2 separate regions of the Homo sapiens genome follow, and region 1 is linked to region 2. A link means that fine-mapping ties the variant in region 2 to the expression of a gene that starts in the linked region. Tissue or cell type: cerebellar hemisphere. Region 2 holds a variant in brackets; the other region holds the start of a gene. All regions are shown on one strand. Distances are from middle to middle.

Region 1 (8,196 bases), 110 kb before region 2:
TTCATGTGATCAGCAAAGATTCTAGAATCTGTATACCATGAATGTAAATCCCTAGGAGATTGATCGAGCTTGGTCAGGTGTTTGGCTTAGCGACAAGGAGGCAGGATTATGTGACTCAGTGACTTCTAGAAGGGGATCATGGAAGACTCTGAGAAAGCCCTATTGGCAGAGCTGGCAAATAGCTTTGCATGTCTGCCACAAGCATGAAAACAAGTAAGGCCAGTCAACCGTAGTTGTGCTAGAATCGAAATATGAATATGATTCATCAGTGTATTGATGGGTCCAGGAAGCTAGGAAATCTAGAATTATTTTATTTGTTTTGTTTGTGTTTAAGTTAGGAGTGTCTCTTTTATTTTGGCCATTATGCACCCCAGCCAGTGCTTAGAGACTTGTGTGTGAGTCAAGCTCAATGGATTCTAAGCTTTACTCACTCATCCCATGGATTCACTGAGTAACATTTGAGAAGCCACTGGTTACTTCACTTCAAAATTACTAGGACTTACCTAGAAGTTCATATTTACCACCCTTTTCAGGTCTAGGGAGAAGAATGTGGAATTGTTAGGAAACTCATTTCAATGTATTATAATAACTATTAATATTTATTAGAAATTTATTTACTAGGTATAGGACTAGACTCTTATAACAAAAATGTATAAGATTTCAGAGACCCAGCATTTAAATGAGAAGGTAGAATATACACATATAACTCAATAATATATTACTCTGTAATACATACAAAAGAAAGTTTATTTGGGGGAAAAAACAAAAACAAAAAAAAAAAGCTAGAGGAAACCAGAGCCAAGAAAGAAGAATGATTAGTTCTCAGTGAAGAAAATGGGAAAGGCTGGGCTAATAATATAGAATTTGACTGGAGCCTTGAAGTAGAATTTGAAACAATGGAAGAAAAAAAGAAAGCTATTCTAAGTAGAAAAATAAGGAATTGACAATGAAGAATGGGAAAGGCAGGCCAGTGAACTCGTGAATTTGGCCTAAACATAGTGTGCAAGAGGGAAAGATAGCCACGGAGCCCACAGAGGTGAGTTGGAGCCAAATCGTGACCTTAAACCCTAGGGTACTTTGAATGTCCTGAAGACATCTAATGATTTTCAGCAGATCAGTCCTGCATTTTTGGATAACTGTGACAACAGGTATAAAAGATGAACTGGAACAGGAGAGAAGGAAGCACAGAGAGATTATATGGGAGTTTGTCACCATGGTGAAAGATCAAAAGGGTTTGAACCAAAGAGAGATTAGCAGTGGAACAGAAAATAGGAGATGGCACAGAAAACCCTAGTAGGGTGTAAAGACAGAATTGGAATGGGATGTTAGCAGGGGGCTGGTGGTGCACCTGGGGAAGAAAGCAGAGGTTTCTGGTTTGGGTGATTGTCTATATGAAAACGGGATAAACAAAGGAGGGCAGGGCATGACGATACAACAGATCAGAAGGAAACACTGGGGAAACTTATCTGAGCCGTGTTCCCCAACAAAACTCTGTCTTGAGCTAAGGAAAAGAAAAAGAGGGGAAGGCCTCACTTCACCCCTGAGTGCTTTTTGGAGTAGGGTCTCTGGGTCTCTCAAGATCCTTTCAAGTGGCCAGTGAAGTCAAAACTATTTTCATAACAATACTGAGACGTTACTGCGTTTTTCACTGTGTTGACATTTGCCCTCATGGTGCAAGAACAAGGATGGGGACTGGTGGTCATTGTATTCTTCATCACTGGGCACTCACAGGAAGAGAAAGGGAGAGGGACACGGAGAGGCCAGCAGATCAATGAATTTTAATGCCACGGAATAGGAAAAACCATTGATATGGTTTCAGATTCCACATTGCAACTTTAAGAAACTACCACTTGTTGAGTTTTGGTGTAGTATCAGGGGATTATCCAGAATTATCTCCTGTTTTTCTAAGTCCATATCTGTGTAACACCAGATTAATCAATATAATTTCACCAAAACTACATGCCGTAACAGATTGGATGCAGAAGCAGATCTGAGAATCCAAATGTCTGTTTTTAAGCCAGATATTTAAAATATTAGCAAAAATGTAAAGCAATGCCACTCTTCTCCCGGATTCTTTCATTTGGAGAAATATAGTTATTTTTCATAAAATGTACATTATTTATGTTCACACATAATAGGATTTTTGTTAAAGGACTTACTGAGTAAAGGGCTCTTGAGACCAAAGAGTTTGAGAAGCCCCAGCTTAACCTTCCATATTTCCTGCTCTGAATGTGGTGTCCCTCACAACTGCAACTAGGCAGGAGAGCACCCTGGAAGGGGTTCTCAAACTACTTTGTCTCAGGAACACTTTATCCTCTTAAAATTAATGTGAGGCAGGAGTTTGTTCTTTGTTTCTAAAAGTTTTGCCTGGCTCTGGAAAATCGTAGCTCCTGACTTATTCTGCACTTCATGACAGTGTAATGTTAATTTGTCCAGTTCTGAGAACAAAAACCAAGAAGGATGCATGTTATTTCCCCCCACCCCCAGAGATAAAACACAAATTCCTGTCTCACATTAAAGGAAGTGTCCTGCCTCCCAAACACAGGTCTGTTCCAAACACTTACTCACATTTCAGTGAGTCAGAAGGAAACAGACAGATATTCATCTCCCTGAAACCTGGCTGACTTCCTTCAAAAAGTCTGTAAGGAGCGTCAAAATCGTGTCACCGGTTAGTGAGCAGCCACCTAAGAGCTCTCAGGTGATAGCCGGAGTTTTAGTAAGCAGGTGAGTACCCCAGACAATTCAGAAAAAAATGCCTTCAGGTGTTTGTCAAGGTGAGTAAGTGCAGCCAGTAAGTGACTGATAAGAAAACAGGAAAGAGCCTGGGACTATATAATTTGGGTTCAAAGGGTATTAGTCATAAGCCATCAGCAGCAACATCTGATGCATACCAATTTAATACTTTAACAATGTGACACATCAGCCCTATCTATAGTAAAGAGAAGAGCTTGATTTTTATGAATTATTAAGTCCTTCCCACCTTGAGCCACTTTGCTTCCTAGAGGCAGTATCTCAGGCATCCCATTCAGCTCATAGTAGCATTCCATGAAGATCTGGAATGATGACAATAATGATGATTATTAGACTCATAACTCCTTAAGCTTGATTTATGAAAACAGTTCGTTCCTTCACAAAAGTAGTCACTGGAAGAATTCTGGTTTCAGCAATGTGCTGGAAATTTGTGGCCAAACTTTTGGATAAAACATAAGATTCAGACAAGAAAAATTAATATCCTATTTCTTAGGTTTTTAACTAAAAATCTCGGATATAGAATGTTCTCTTTCCAGATGTGAGACTGAAATAATGGAAGAAAATGGTCACAGTCTATGTCATGGTGTAATGTAGACAGGGAGAGTCACAAGTGCATGTATGGGCTCTCAGCCTTTTCTCTGGCCTTGAAGTTAATCTCCTAAACTCAGTCATTAAATCAGCTCTTAATTATCTCGGAGGAGAGGAAGTAATGATGATTTCTCTCTCTCTGTCTCTCTGTCACACACACACACACACACACAGCTCTTGCAGCAGGTATTGCTTAAATATCACCTTGGATAATCATAACTTGTGAGCAGATCTTCTTTCCTGATGAGTTAGTTTCTAACCTGGTCATTCTGCGCTTATTTTTGTCCCTTTCTCCACCCACTTAGGAAAAACAGAGAAAGGGACGCACCGCGCAGCCCCTAGGCACTGTGGTTTAGGGCTAGTGCCCTCGGCACCCGCTGCCAGGAGCCGGGCGCTGCCAAGGGCTGCGGAGGGGCCACGTTCTCCCGGGGACTGGGGCATCTCCTGCGTGCTGGCGACAGGCTGCGGGGGCGGAGTGGTGCCAGGGCGGGCGCTCGCCCGTCGGATATGCCCACCCGTCCCGTCCAGGGCAGGAAAGCCTGCCAGGGCGCCATCCCCATCCCCACCGCCTCCAGGCTGCCGGGGCTGGGCCGCTGTACGGGAGCCAAGGTGCGGTGCCCCGCGTGTGGACGAGCCGAGGTGCAGCCCGCGGGGCCGCAGGGCCGGGGTGGGGCGGGGCGCGGCCGGAGCAGATCCGGTGTTTGCGGAATCAGGAGGGGCGGGCTGGGGCGGGCCCTCGGCGCTGCAGGAGCTGCCCAGAAACTTTTCCCTGCTCTCACCGGGCGGGGGAGAGAAGCCCTCTGGACAGCTTCTAGAGTGTGCAGGTTCTCGTATCCCTCGGCCAAGGGTATCCTCTGCAAACCTCTGCAAACCCAGCGCAACTACGGTCCCCCGGTCAGACCCAGGATGGGGCCAGAACGGACAGGGGCCGCGCCGCTGCCGCTGCTGCTGGTGTTAGCGCTCAGTCAAGGTAAGCGGGGATTTCGCTCTGCATCGGCTGCAGGAGGGACCCGCGCGGCTTCCTGGGGCTCGCTGGAGGGATTGGGCGGAACTAGGGAGCGAGCTCCGTGTGTTCCCTCGGATTCCACGTGGACTCGGGCTCCCAGCCACCAGGACCTGCTTGGAAAGAGATACTTCTTCGTTCCCTTCCTGCTATCCCAGGCCTTGCGTCCCCATTAGGCGCGTCTCGCCCTGTCTGTTAAGCACCCTCCAAAGTCATCTCAGTGAGTGCTTTGTTTTAGGTACACACACGCACACACACACACACACACACAGACAGACACGCACGCACTCAAGCATGGACAGTGTGGGGATCCGCGGGTGTCCTGGAGACCGCGAGTCCTGCAGCCCAACTTCCCCTGGCTCAGACAGGTGCCGCGCCTGCCAGAGACCAGGGAAATCCGGAATCCATTGCTGATGGCGGCCTGCAGCTCCCCAGCGCGGTGCTTGCTGGCTTTGCAGAAGCCTGCGAGCCCCAAAATGCTTATTTTTCAACCCAAGGATGTGAATAATGCCTCTATTTCTTACTTGAGGACGAAGCGCTGTGTTTCTTCCCGGGGGGACTTGGAATAAACCAAGCGCCACTTAAATACTTGGCAGAGGGGAATTCTTCCTTCCCTTCTGCCTTCCTCTTATTGTTGTAACATTGTCTATTCGACGAATGTAAACTTAGGCTAGGAAAAGTTCTTTTCACTTCTGGATCCTAGATGCCGCAATGAGAGAATAAGCCGGAGCAGCCGCTCTAACTGTAGTGCTGTGGCAGTGGGGCCCGCCCACCTCCTGAGTTCTTTTACACTAAGAGGAGGAAATAAGGCTGGGGTGGAGAGCTTTTGTGGGACCATCGCCTGAGTACTTTTTCCCTGACCATTAGGCAGAGCTAGAGTGTGGTCAAATTTAAGAATTTTAGTTTATTTGGAGGGAGAAGGAGACACGTTTGTATAATGTAGTTTGAACAGCGATCAAAACAAAACAAAAAAGTTGTCTCTGATTTTAAAGTGTGTGTGTGGTTTTTTTTTTTTTTTTTTACAAAGAAGATAAATATTTCCTAAGCTGTCCTCCTTTGAGACTGACATTCAGCCACTTGCTATTCTTTATTGTGGAGGAATGAATCCTAGTCCACGTCAACCTGGTGGCATTTTCTCCAGGTCAGAGATAAGAGAGAAATAGCACCACTGTCCCCAGCCCGAGCAGAGAATGGGCATCTTAGGTTTTCTGTCTCACCTGTATTGGGTGCTTCAGATACTTTCTCCGGGAACCAGATGAGTTGTTTTGAGGGGCCACCAACCCTAATCTACGGATTTCAGGTAAAGTTGTACTTGACATTGAAAATGAGTCTCTGGAATACAACTAGAGCTAATAGAAATATAAACCCAAGCTTTTCATCTCTCTGTAATTACCCAGTATTAAAATAAGCTGTGGAAACATAACATCATTTTCTTATCTTTGAAATGTTGAGGCTTGTTATGTAAAGAGCAGTGAGAAATTCTTTAATGGAATGTAACGCTGCAAGGCATGAAGTCAGGAACAGAGACTTAACCTGGAGTTAATAAGGACACCTCAGGGCAAGCAAGCAGAGATGATCGAAAATAACATCTGCAAAAGTTTTGTGCATTTATTCCCTCCTCCTACTCCAGCCATTTGTATACTCAAGGAACAGGTTTTCTCTTAATTTAAGATCCTCATAAGAAAGCTCTCTCATTTGTGATATCACTTGAGGTTCCTGGAGAAGCAGCATCGTTTTTTGGTACCATGAGTATCCCAGGTTAACATGAATAAGTGAAATCTCTAGCTCAGTAGTATCTAAAATTTTGTATGGCATTACCCTATCTGTATAAAATTTCTCATTCACTATCATTACACACACACACACACATAACTGTTATAAAATTATAGTATGTACAATTGCATCATATCACATACAAAAATTCAAATTTAAAAGCTATGTATGTGACAGAGCTTCATTATGATGATCTTAAATTAAGAGAAAACCTGTTCCTTGAGTATACAATATGCCGTGTTATGTATATACAATTGTATATACATATATATACCTGTTAATATGTATAAAACACATGTGTGTTTAGACATCTTGTATCATCTCTAGCATACATGCAAACCACTTTAAAAACATATCACCTTCAAATCTTATTTTAACACTTACATTCAAATTTGCTTTCCAGAAACCTTTTCACAGGTGCTTAAGAAGAAAATGTACTCATAGTTTAGTCCTATATTTATCACCTTTCAGTGCTCATTTCTAAGTGCTTAATACCATGAAAATGGTAAATGGGCAGTCTGAGGATGAAAAAGAGAGAACATAAGAGGCCTAGATAATCTATAAACTAAATATAGGCCATTAGCAGAAGGCAAATGTAATTTTGAAATGAAGGCCATCACGTATTTTCTCCAGTATGTTCACAGGTCAAGGATAGTCCTTCCACCCAGGTTCTAGACCACATCTTTTCTTACTATCCCTGAAACCCTGCCCCAGCACTCATCCCTCTTCAGTGCACGTCTTCAAATTCTCTCCCTAATGTAACTTCCCCTCAGTCTGTAAATATTCTAATTTTTCTTATTGTAAAAAAAATATTTCTTTTGATATTTAATTTCCTCCTGAAACATCCTGTACTTCTGGCTTCTGTTCTCTTCCTGTTTTTCTCCTCCTTTCCTCGCTGCTCTCCCGTCATCTCCTTCACAGGCTCTTTCCTTGTTGGTGTTTGCAGAGTTTCATCCTGAATCCTCCTCTTCATTCTGCAGATTGTCTCTGGGCCCATTCCCTGCACAGGTCCCTATCTCCAGCCAGCCTCCCCTTCTGAGTTCCAGATCAGTATTTCCATCAGCCACCAAATTTCTCCAGCTAGACAGTCTGTAAGTAAGCCAGATTCAACATTTCCAAAACTGAATTTAATACGTGTCCTCCAGAATTTTCTCCTCTATTGGCTACCATTGTTTAATGGCAGTATTATTATCACACAAACATGAAAGCCAGGAATTTGTCCCCATGTTTTCAACCTCACAGCCACTCTCCAAATTCTCTTGGCTCTCCTCCCATCCATGCAACTCCTGCCACCCAGTCAGTCCCTCATCTTATGTCTGTATGTAACTTTTAAACTGGATTTTCTTTTCTTATCTCTCCAACCCATTCTCTTCATTTTCACTAATGATATCTTTCTAAGACACTTATATGTTTCCAATTACTGCTTTGTTTCAAATGTTAGTGGCTCCCCATCTCAGGTAGGGTAAAGTGCCAATTTCTTGGCATGTCATAAAAAGGTACATTCTACCTATCCAATCTTTTCTTTACTGTATGCTTTCCTGAACACAAATACACATTCACACACACACACCACACACATGCCCACACATGTACACACTCTAAAGCCATCTATATACACCATTCTTTGTTATGACTACACCTGATCATACCATATTTAGTGTGAAAATATTTTCCAAATACTCCCTTTGCCTTCATTGCATTGTTGCTTTCACCCCTTTTCACTCATCTCTTTGCAACTGACCATTATCCAATGCTAGAAGGGTCAATCCCAAGCAAAATTATAAAGTAGAGAACTTTTACTTTTGCAACAAAAAGGAAAGCTTGAGGTAACCTACCTTTGCTGGGTCCCACCCTAAACCACCTCTCTGGTCTCATCCTCAGCCCCTTAATGGGACTTAGGCCGCCCTCTGATAAAGTAACTTTGCTCCCCTATGGCTTAGCAGTTATACCTGCCCAACCTCAGCTAAGCTTTGCTCTCTTAATACTAGGTCCTGAGCCACTGTTTGACTTAAATTTATGGACTGGGGTTTAGGATTCAGTATTTACAATGGCTCATATATTTCTGATGTATGGTCTGGTTT
Region 2 (8,448 bases):
GGGCCACTCAAAACTATTCAAGTCAAATTGTAAGTTCTACAGCATCCCCAGGTGATTCATATTGCATTGAAGTTGAGAAGCACTGCTCTAAAGCTTACCTTTTGAAATAAAATGTGTGCTTGGAATAGAGAGGGAAAAAAAATCAGCCAAACTGCTGCAACATGCAAAAGCAGAGTCATCTGCACAGTTTAAAAAAAATCATAATAAGCAGGAAGGTTTAAATATTTTTAAAGAGTAAATATGCTGAAATAAATATGCTGTAAGTTATAAAGTAAGTACACGTTGGGCTCACAGACTGCCATCGCTGTACAGATGGCAGAGTAATGCAAAGACAGGGTGGAAAGTGTGTGTGTGCTGCCATAAATAGCGATGCACCAGCATCTCCATTCATGTCTGCGGCGCTCTCTCACATGCCTCCCTGCCCATCGCAGTTGTGCTGAGCCGTCTCAGGAGGGCAGCTCACTGCAGCACAACCATCAATAAGTGTGTCTGCTATATATCTCACATTAAAATACAATCTTGGAGAGCTGAATGTGGGAATTGCAGCTACTTGGGAGGCTGAGGCAGGGAGGATCCTTTGAACCCAGGAGTTCAAGGCCGGCAACATGAGACCCCCCCCCTCCCAGCTCTTAAAAAATAAAATGTTAGAGAAAGAGAGCACTAAGTTTTATTTCTTTGTTTTTCACAGAGCAGGTTAGGAAATGCTGTACAGGTTAGGAAGACCTGTATTAAAGCAATCATTTATATCCCATAGTTAACTGGAAAATAATTTTATACTTACTTTTTAAAAAGTACTTCTTTTTATTTATTCTACATCACTTGTTAAAAACTACAAATTGCATTTTCAAAAACTCCTTCCTGATCCTATCATAATCTTTTAATATTTTTAAGGTGTCAATTAAAGATTGGACATCATCTTACATAAAATCAGGGCCTAATTTTCATTTCGGAACCACTACAGCCTGACTTTAAAGAAAATGGCTACTAAACTGAACTTTTGGTTCTATGCAAAATTAAATCTAAGTAAGACTCAAGTTGCTAAGAGCAACTTTACTATAACTTTTACTATGGCTCTGGCTCTACTGCCCTCTGCTGGATGATCCACCGAACTACATCACACAAATCATTCTTGAGAGATCTTCACTGTACCAGGTGCTCAGTAACTGTGTAAGATGTCTAAATCACTTATTTCTCAAAAAAGGCTGAAAATATATTGTGACTCTATACATCATATCCAAAGGACAAAAATGTCCACAAAATAAGTCACTCATTGAATATCTGCTGTTACTTTCATTCAAAGATGATAAAAATCAATTTCATTTTACCACCTGTTCAAAAATACTTGAAACATAAATAATTTGAATTTCCTATTTCTTAAGTGAACTTACCTAGCAATCATGCAAAGTCACGGCTTTAAAGTGACCAAGAAACACTGCAGGCAATCTGATTAAAGGCTAATTATTTTTTTTAGATTACTCTTCTAGTTACTTGAAGCTAAGTTACAGAGATGATAGAAAAGCTACATATCAGAGTGACAGTAGCCCCTTAATATCTGAACCACCAATTAACTCTGCCACTCCTAAGTAAGCAAGGGTCAGTAAAGATCCTATCTAAGTCAAGTGCAATGCACTAAAATCTTTCAAGGCCATTCCATCCCAGTTCTGGCATGCCCCAGGTTAACTCCTTAACCTCTCTGTTGGAGACTTTAAAAGCATAACAGTCTCAGTTCCAAACTTAGAATAAAGCCTACTTAATGAAGGCATGATTCTTTTAAAACATAAAGAATGTTCTATGTTCTTTAAAAACATCATTACCCTCAATAAGGAACTTCTAAAGAAATATCTAAGTAGGAAAGTCTTGAAATCCACATATACCTATCAACATTGCATATGACATAACATCCATTTAACAACCTATGTCCAAAATCCTAGAAATGTCCAGTGACCCAGTAACCCCATGATAATGTGCTTTTAGATATAATGCAACAGCCAACACCCACCCCTTCTCTCCAATGGGGACAGGCGGAAGCTCGATGGCAAGCCAGAGTGACACTGAACTGTGAAGGTAAGGCTGAGACCAAACAGGCAACCCGAACCCGGCAGAGGAAGTAGGCGGAGGGTTTGTCTGCCCTTCCAGTATCCTTCTGGCCCAATCTCTCCAGACGGACTAATGAACAAGCATCAACTGATGTAACCAGGTGATTCCTAAAGTCAGTGTGGCTGTCCTATGGGTCCCAGCCACAGATAAGATGCAGAGTGTTCCTCAAGGTATTTTAGGTTGGCAGAAAAAGATCACTGGGTGGGTGCCTGGCACAAAACAGGCATTCAATAAATATTTGTTGAATAAATGGGTTCCTTAGGTAAAAGATGTTTTCACTACATATAACAAATAGGATTACTACGTTTCTTATTTGTCCCAGACATAAGAAAAAAATCCTTCAATCTAAGTGTCTGAAAGTATAGCTTTTGTTCTTAATATGCATAATGCAAATTTTGTGATGATGCCGACTGCCCAAATTTTGCCTGTATTTTATTATTTTATGAGCTATGTGTTTACCTGAAATTTGCTGAGAGTAGACCTTAAATATTCTCACCACACAGAAGAGGGGACTATGTGAGCTGAGGAATATGTTAATTAGTTGGATTATGGTAATCACCTCACAATGTATATGTGTATCAAAAATCACATTGTATACTTTAAATACATACAATTTTTGTCAAGTATACCTAAATAAAGCTGGAAAAAAAAATTTAAGAACTATATGGGACTTATATGTACAAGTCTATCAAAATACTATAAAGCTTAACCAGTTAAAAATTGGGGCATTGTTTACCTAAACATTTCAACACAAACCACCTTGTTGCTAGTTAGCTTTATGACAATTTTGTGCTGATTTGTATATTGATACAAAATTAACAACTAATAAAAAACAACAAAAAGTTTTCTGGTAAGATTATAGATTCTGAAATCCCAGAAATCTCCATAATGAGAACTATTTTAGGCAATTTAAAAAAAAAGAAAATACTCTTTTTAAACTTTTGAAATCATGGGTTTTAGTTTATTATTTTTAATATATTTCTGAAAATGTATAATATCAAGACTGTCTGATAATGCTTTTTTAATACTTTCCAGTTCTGCCAACATTCCTGTCAT[GC/G]ATCCTTAATAACAATGCTCTCCCAGAACCGGGATGGGGGGCGGTGAGGTGGGGTTGGTGGGGGAGTACGTTTCTGAGCTAGTTAAAGTCACTGAGGAGGGCCCATACCTCAATGTGTGTTGAGTTACAATTAGAAATTAGTCATGGAAGGACATGTCTACCACAGATATCTTTCCTCACATTTAAATTATTCCATTTCTTCCTACAGTCCTCCTTCTATCTTTAGTTCCATTTTAAATAACCCTTCATCCTACATACCCATTTATCTTGCTTCCTTTTTCTCCCTTTTGTCCCACTAGTATAAGAGATTGTGCTTCAGTAAACTATCCTGATGTGGAGAGAAAAAAATCAAAATGTGATCAATAATAATAGTTTAACAAAGTTAAGATTGCATGCTCTAAAAACATAAGTGATTAACTGTTGGATGCCCAAAAGCACTCTTTGTTTCCTTTCCAAGTTGATGACTCTTCGTATATTTCCTAAAAAACAAAATCATAACAGGTATTAAAAATAGACCATTCTACTATACGAATATAAAATATATTTGAATAAATCAGACAAATGAATATCACATCTATTTCAATGGCTCCTCTTTTAACAATCATGACGAGAGACATCATGGGCAAGGTTACATAGGGGAAGACAGAAAGTCTTTAGTTTTAAACATTTTTTTTTCTTTCCAAACATACCTACTACTTCAACATTTCTAAATATGCTTTTCCAAAGGCAGATATCTTCATTAGCTGTTGAATTAAGTGGTCACCTCTCAGAAGTTCCTAAACAAGTTTGAGCTGCCCTCTGGTATGAGCTGTTCTTTGACATATGCACTCTACCTACCTGCCACCCTTCCCTATATCACAGATGATCTCAAAGCACAGGCCGAGACTAGAACCAGACTAGAAGTTACATAGTTTGTGGAAAGGAGGGGTAAGGAGAACATATCACTTTCTCTTCTCACTCTCTAGTCACATTCCATTTCTGTAGGGAGAGGAATTCAAATTCAACTGTCCTCTGAACTCCTGCACTTCCTCGGACTCTCTATGGACAAACAAAAGCAAAATACGAAGCCCAACTAGTCCTCAAAGCATGAAAACAAGAATATGCCCCAACTCCTGCTCATTACCTGTATTTCTGGGGTTGCTCCCATCTACTTTCTGTCCACTGACTGTGCACCCTTTCCTCCCTGGTGAAGAAAGCTACCCCTGCCTTCCAGGCTTGCAGCTGATCTTAGAATGCTCTTCCTACCTCTCGCTCTCTGGGGGCCTGCCTCCTGTTGTGTCAGCCTTGTTCACAGCAAGGGAACAATATATCTGAGCTTCACTAAGTTTCCTTTCACACATATTCTATCCTCTAATCCCTACGTATTCTAACAATGGGCTTCAATTTTATTCTGAAAACATGGTCATCAAATTTCCCAGGCCCTGGTTATGAGTCCAACTTGCTTATTTCTACCACTGACTGAGGCAGGTCCCCTGGGAAGGAGGGGAGAAGTGCCCTTTAAAAGCCCTGGCTCTCTGCTCTGGTCTTTTCATCTACTGAGCTGTTCATTAACTCCTCAGCTTTCTGTCAACCACAACGCTGTAGGCAATTCTAGACAATTCTAGACATTGAATGTGCAACCACAGAACAATCCCACTGTTAATGTTACTACACCAGGGGAGAAACTAGGGAGTTGGGCCTTTTCATCCCATCAGAATGCTCTATTTAACCAGAGAATTACTTGCCCTTATTGACAGAAAACATGCCAGAAGTTCCTATTTCTGTTTTTAAATCCACTCACTGCATTTTCTCAGAGGGAGCAATATCTCACCATTTTTTTTTCTTCCCTAAAAAGGACCTCTAGGAAAAGCCTCTTTCACTTTAAAGAATTTCTATTTTAGCCATTACCTAAATAGCTAATGCATTATTCTCACTCTCCAACAGAAAGACCCTCTAATTCAAGGGAATTATAATCCAAGGAAAATAACTTCATGTATGAACCCCTCCAACAGTCCAGACTAGGAATTCTCACTGTTATCACTCATTGAGGCTTACTGTGTGCCATGCATTCTTTGGGGCACATATTTTTCATGCTTAACAAATCTTGGAAAGAAGATATTTCACAGATAAAGAAAACAAGATACTACAGTCAGTAAAAAGTCCATAAATATGGGGGGATTTATCTAAAAATTCCTGAGAAAAATCAGGTCCACATGCTAAAATGTGTTATTTTCTTAACTTACCTTTTTCCATATGGGCACCTTGGCTTTTAAAGTATCAATGGCATAGCTCACAGCTTCAAGAGATGCAGCTCTGTGGGCTGAGGACACAGCAATGATTATGCTTGCTTCTGACACTGGAACCAAGCTTTAACAAGATGAAGAGAAAAAAAAATCACCATCATCTCTGAATCTACGTGTTAAAGAATCTGCTAGACAGATGAAAAAAAATCCAGGTATGCAGTCTTAGAATTATACTGTAGTTCTATTTTACGTAAACATACAGTTAGAAAAGAGTAATTAATTGCAGTAGCATTCAGCAGAGGCAGTAGATGAGGCTGATGCTACAGCTAATTTGTTAGAATCTATCCACTAAACCCTCCTGATGGGCACCAAGGAAAATCCTTTCATTGATAGAGCAAACATCTGACTCAACAAGGCACAGTGCCAAGTAATGCCTAGAAATACAAAGTTATGTCCTAACGAGTATAATACAAAATTTAAAATAATACATATCAAGTAATAGGAGTGATAATAACCATTAATAAAACTACTGGTTATTAATAACAAACTAGTAACTAACAGAGTATGATAGATACAGTCTCAATTACTGGCTTCTTTTTAAAGCCAAGAACTCTTCTCTTTTTAGGGGTACAAAAAGGCAAACCACTCTAATGACTTTCGAGGCATTTATATCAAAAAGAATCTGTCACAGATTGTCATAGGGCCTGCAAGTCTTGGCACAACTGCAGTTTGTTACAGCAACAGAGGCAACAAGAGCTCTCCCAATATCAAAACTCACTAGGCAGTCCCTAAAGGTACTAACAGCCATCCCTATTGTCCTCCAAAAATAATACATGAATATTCCTCTCATGGTAATATAGAATTACTAAGAAAGATTCAAGAATCAGAGTTAGTACAAAGATGGAAAACAATTACACTTAACTTTTAGAGTGATAAAGGAAATCATACCCAAGTCTATGGAACACTGCTATGTGTTTGACTGGCCATTTCTGCCTAATGTCACTACAAATCTTTCTGACTTCATTTTCCGCCATGGGTAGATATGCTTCATATTCTAAGCTAATGACTTTTTTCCCTTCAAAGTTATTTCTTGTAGTCCCTTTAAAAATGAAAAAAAAGAAAAAGAAAACAATTAAAATAAGGTTTTTCCCTACAAAAGAAATAGCACGTTAATAAAAAAGGAATATTTTTAATAGTAAATTAATAGTAAACAAGCAGCATACCAATTCTTCTAAAACTACTTTGAAATCTTCTAAAAACAAAATTTGATTAGGAAAATAAAACAGATCTTCACAAAGATGAGCACTGATTAAGCAAGCTTACTAAAAACACTCACCTGGCAAACCGGGCAATATTCCTCTTCTGACTAATAGATACTTAAAAGGAAAATATTTATGTTCCCAGGACTATCAAGTACATTTTTACCTTCAATTTTGGAAAATCTAGAATTCTCTCTCCTAACAATGACTTTTATCCTACTTTTCAAAATGCCTTGTAATTTAATATAGGTTAATTTGAAGGTTACTAAAACAAAACAAGAACTAAAAAAAAGTCTACCCACCATCATCGGTAATCTTGGTTTAAAGTTCAGTATTTCAAACTCCTCCGTTAACACTGAACATGGAAAGCACATGCTAATTTCTATTGTCTTATACAGTGATAGATGCAATGAAAATTACAACTCACCTACAAATAGGGATATTGCACCACAGAGCGGAGAAATCACCAACTGTGAGACTTCATCTACTGAAAGTTTCTCGGCAGTAAAGTTTATAACATCTTTAGATTTCTCTTCAACTTCATCCATATCTTTCCTAGAAATAATACATTAACAAACCTTAACAGAAGTCCTAGGGGTAAAACACTCAACAACTTATAGGCTCTTTCAATTTATATTTTTTTCTACATTATGTCGATGTAAAAGGAAGAGGCTGTGGCACAAAATATAGTTTACATGAGTCAAATCAAGGACAGTGGCCCAGGATGCTTCTAAGATACCTTGGGGAGTTCCTTTGGGGAGCACTCCCTCGGCCTTTGTTGCAAGCAGGTTTGTAAAGGCAAAGGGAACAAAAAGTGGGCTGATACAATGATACAAAGTTTCACCAAGAATTCTCACTGGCATACAGAGATAATGTTGATCACTGATTGGCTGTACACTGTTGAACTATAGGGTGGGTACAAGTTAGAGTGTCCAGCATATGGACTTTATGGTTTCTTAGCTTCAGCTAGTCTGCAGCCCTCATAATAAGTGGCTTCAAGGGACCAGTGGCTCACACCTGTAATCCCACCACTTTGGGAGGCCGAGGCGGGTGGATCATTTGGGGTCAGGAGTTTGAGACCAGCCTGGCCAACATGGTGAAACCCCGTCTCTACTAAAAATACAAAAATTAGCCAGGCGGTAGTGGCACACATCTATAATCCCAACTACTTGGGAGGCTGAGGCAGGAGAATTGCTTGAGCTTGGGAGGTGGAGGTTGCAGTGAGCTGAAACTGATCATGCCACTGCACTCCAGTCTGGGCGACAAAGTGATACCCCATCTCAAAAAAAAAAAAAGAAAAAAAAGGTAATGATGCAGCTTAATGGGGAGTGACATGACTGCCATTTCATTCCAGTGCCTTTCTGTGCCTCTTAATGTTTTATCTGACGGGCTCACATTCCTCAGATAAAAAGTTTCTTTTCTTTTTTTCCCCACCATTAAATGTGTTAGGAGGCATGATTTGATCTGAATGATAAAAATAAGCAAGTGTAAAAATTAACAAAACTCAATTATGTGTATAAATATTCATAATGAATCAGGCATGACATAAAAAGTAATCCATTATTAACATGATCACTAAAATATAATCTGTCTCAATGCCAATATATTCCAAATTCTGTAACTGCTATTCATATCTCCCATCAAGATACAGTGGAGGTATTGCCACTTTCACCTACATGCCCATCCCCTCTCACCACTATGGTACCAAGCACCACACCTAAAGCTGTCTTTTTCTTTATCCAACAAAAAAGGAAGAACAGAAGTGACAGTGATTCTACTGGAACTGGGTTCCCTTCACAAACTGGCAAAACCC

Alleles and levels. Alleles are on the strand shown, and positions count from the first base shown. SD is a standard deviation of normalised expression in the study named.
With allele G in place of GC in region 2, the expression in cerebellar hemisphere of the gene that starts at base 4,129 in region 1 is higher (large effect, 0.77 SD a copy in GTEx).

Evidence for each region. PIP is the estimated chance that this variant, and not a neighbour inherited with it, causes the effect.
Region 1: it holds the start of ITGA2, and the variant in region 2 is fine-mapped to the expression of ITGA2 in cerebellar hemisphere (GTEx, PIP above 0.99). The same link has a PIP of 0.9 or more in cerebellum.

What each region holds. Positions count from the first base shown.
Region 1 is chr5:52,985,224-52,993,419 of GRCh38, forward strand. ITGA2 (integrin subunit alpha 2) reads left to right here and starts at 4,129. Exons shown (of 30, transcript NM_002203.4): 1 at 4,129-4,309. The coding sequence starts at 4,246. It overlaps ITGA2-AS1 (ITGA2 antisense RNA 1), which reads right to left and starts at 5,063. Exons shown (of 4, transcript NR_186583.1): 1 at 4,867-5,063; 2 at 2,981-3,053. RefSeq lists an enhancer at 2,269-3,468 and a silencer at 3,933-4,082.
Region 2 is chr5:53,095,035-53,103,482 of GRCh38, forward strand. MOCS2 (molybdenum cofactor synthesis 2) reads right to left here. Exons shown (of 7, transcript NM_004531.5): 4 at 7,063-7,190; 5 at 6,325-6,475; 6 at 5,377-5,500; 7 at 645-3,633. The coding sequence ends at 3,568. Among named protein-coding and RNA genes, the nearest start is that of MOCS2, 10 kb to the right of the region's middle. The variant GC/G (reference allele first, on the strand shown) is at 3,154.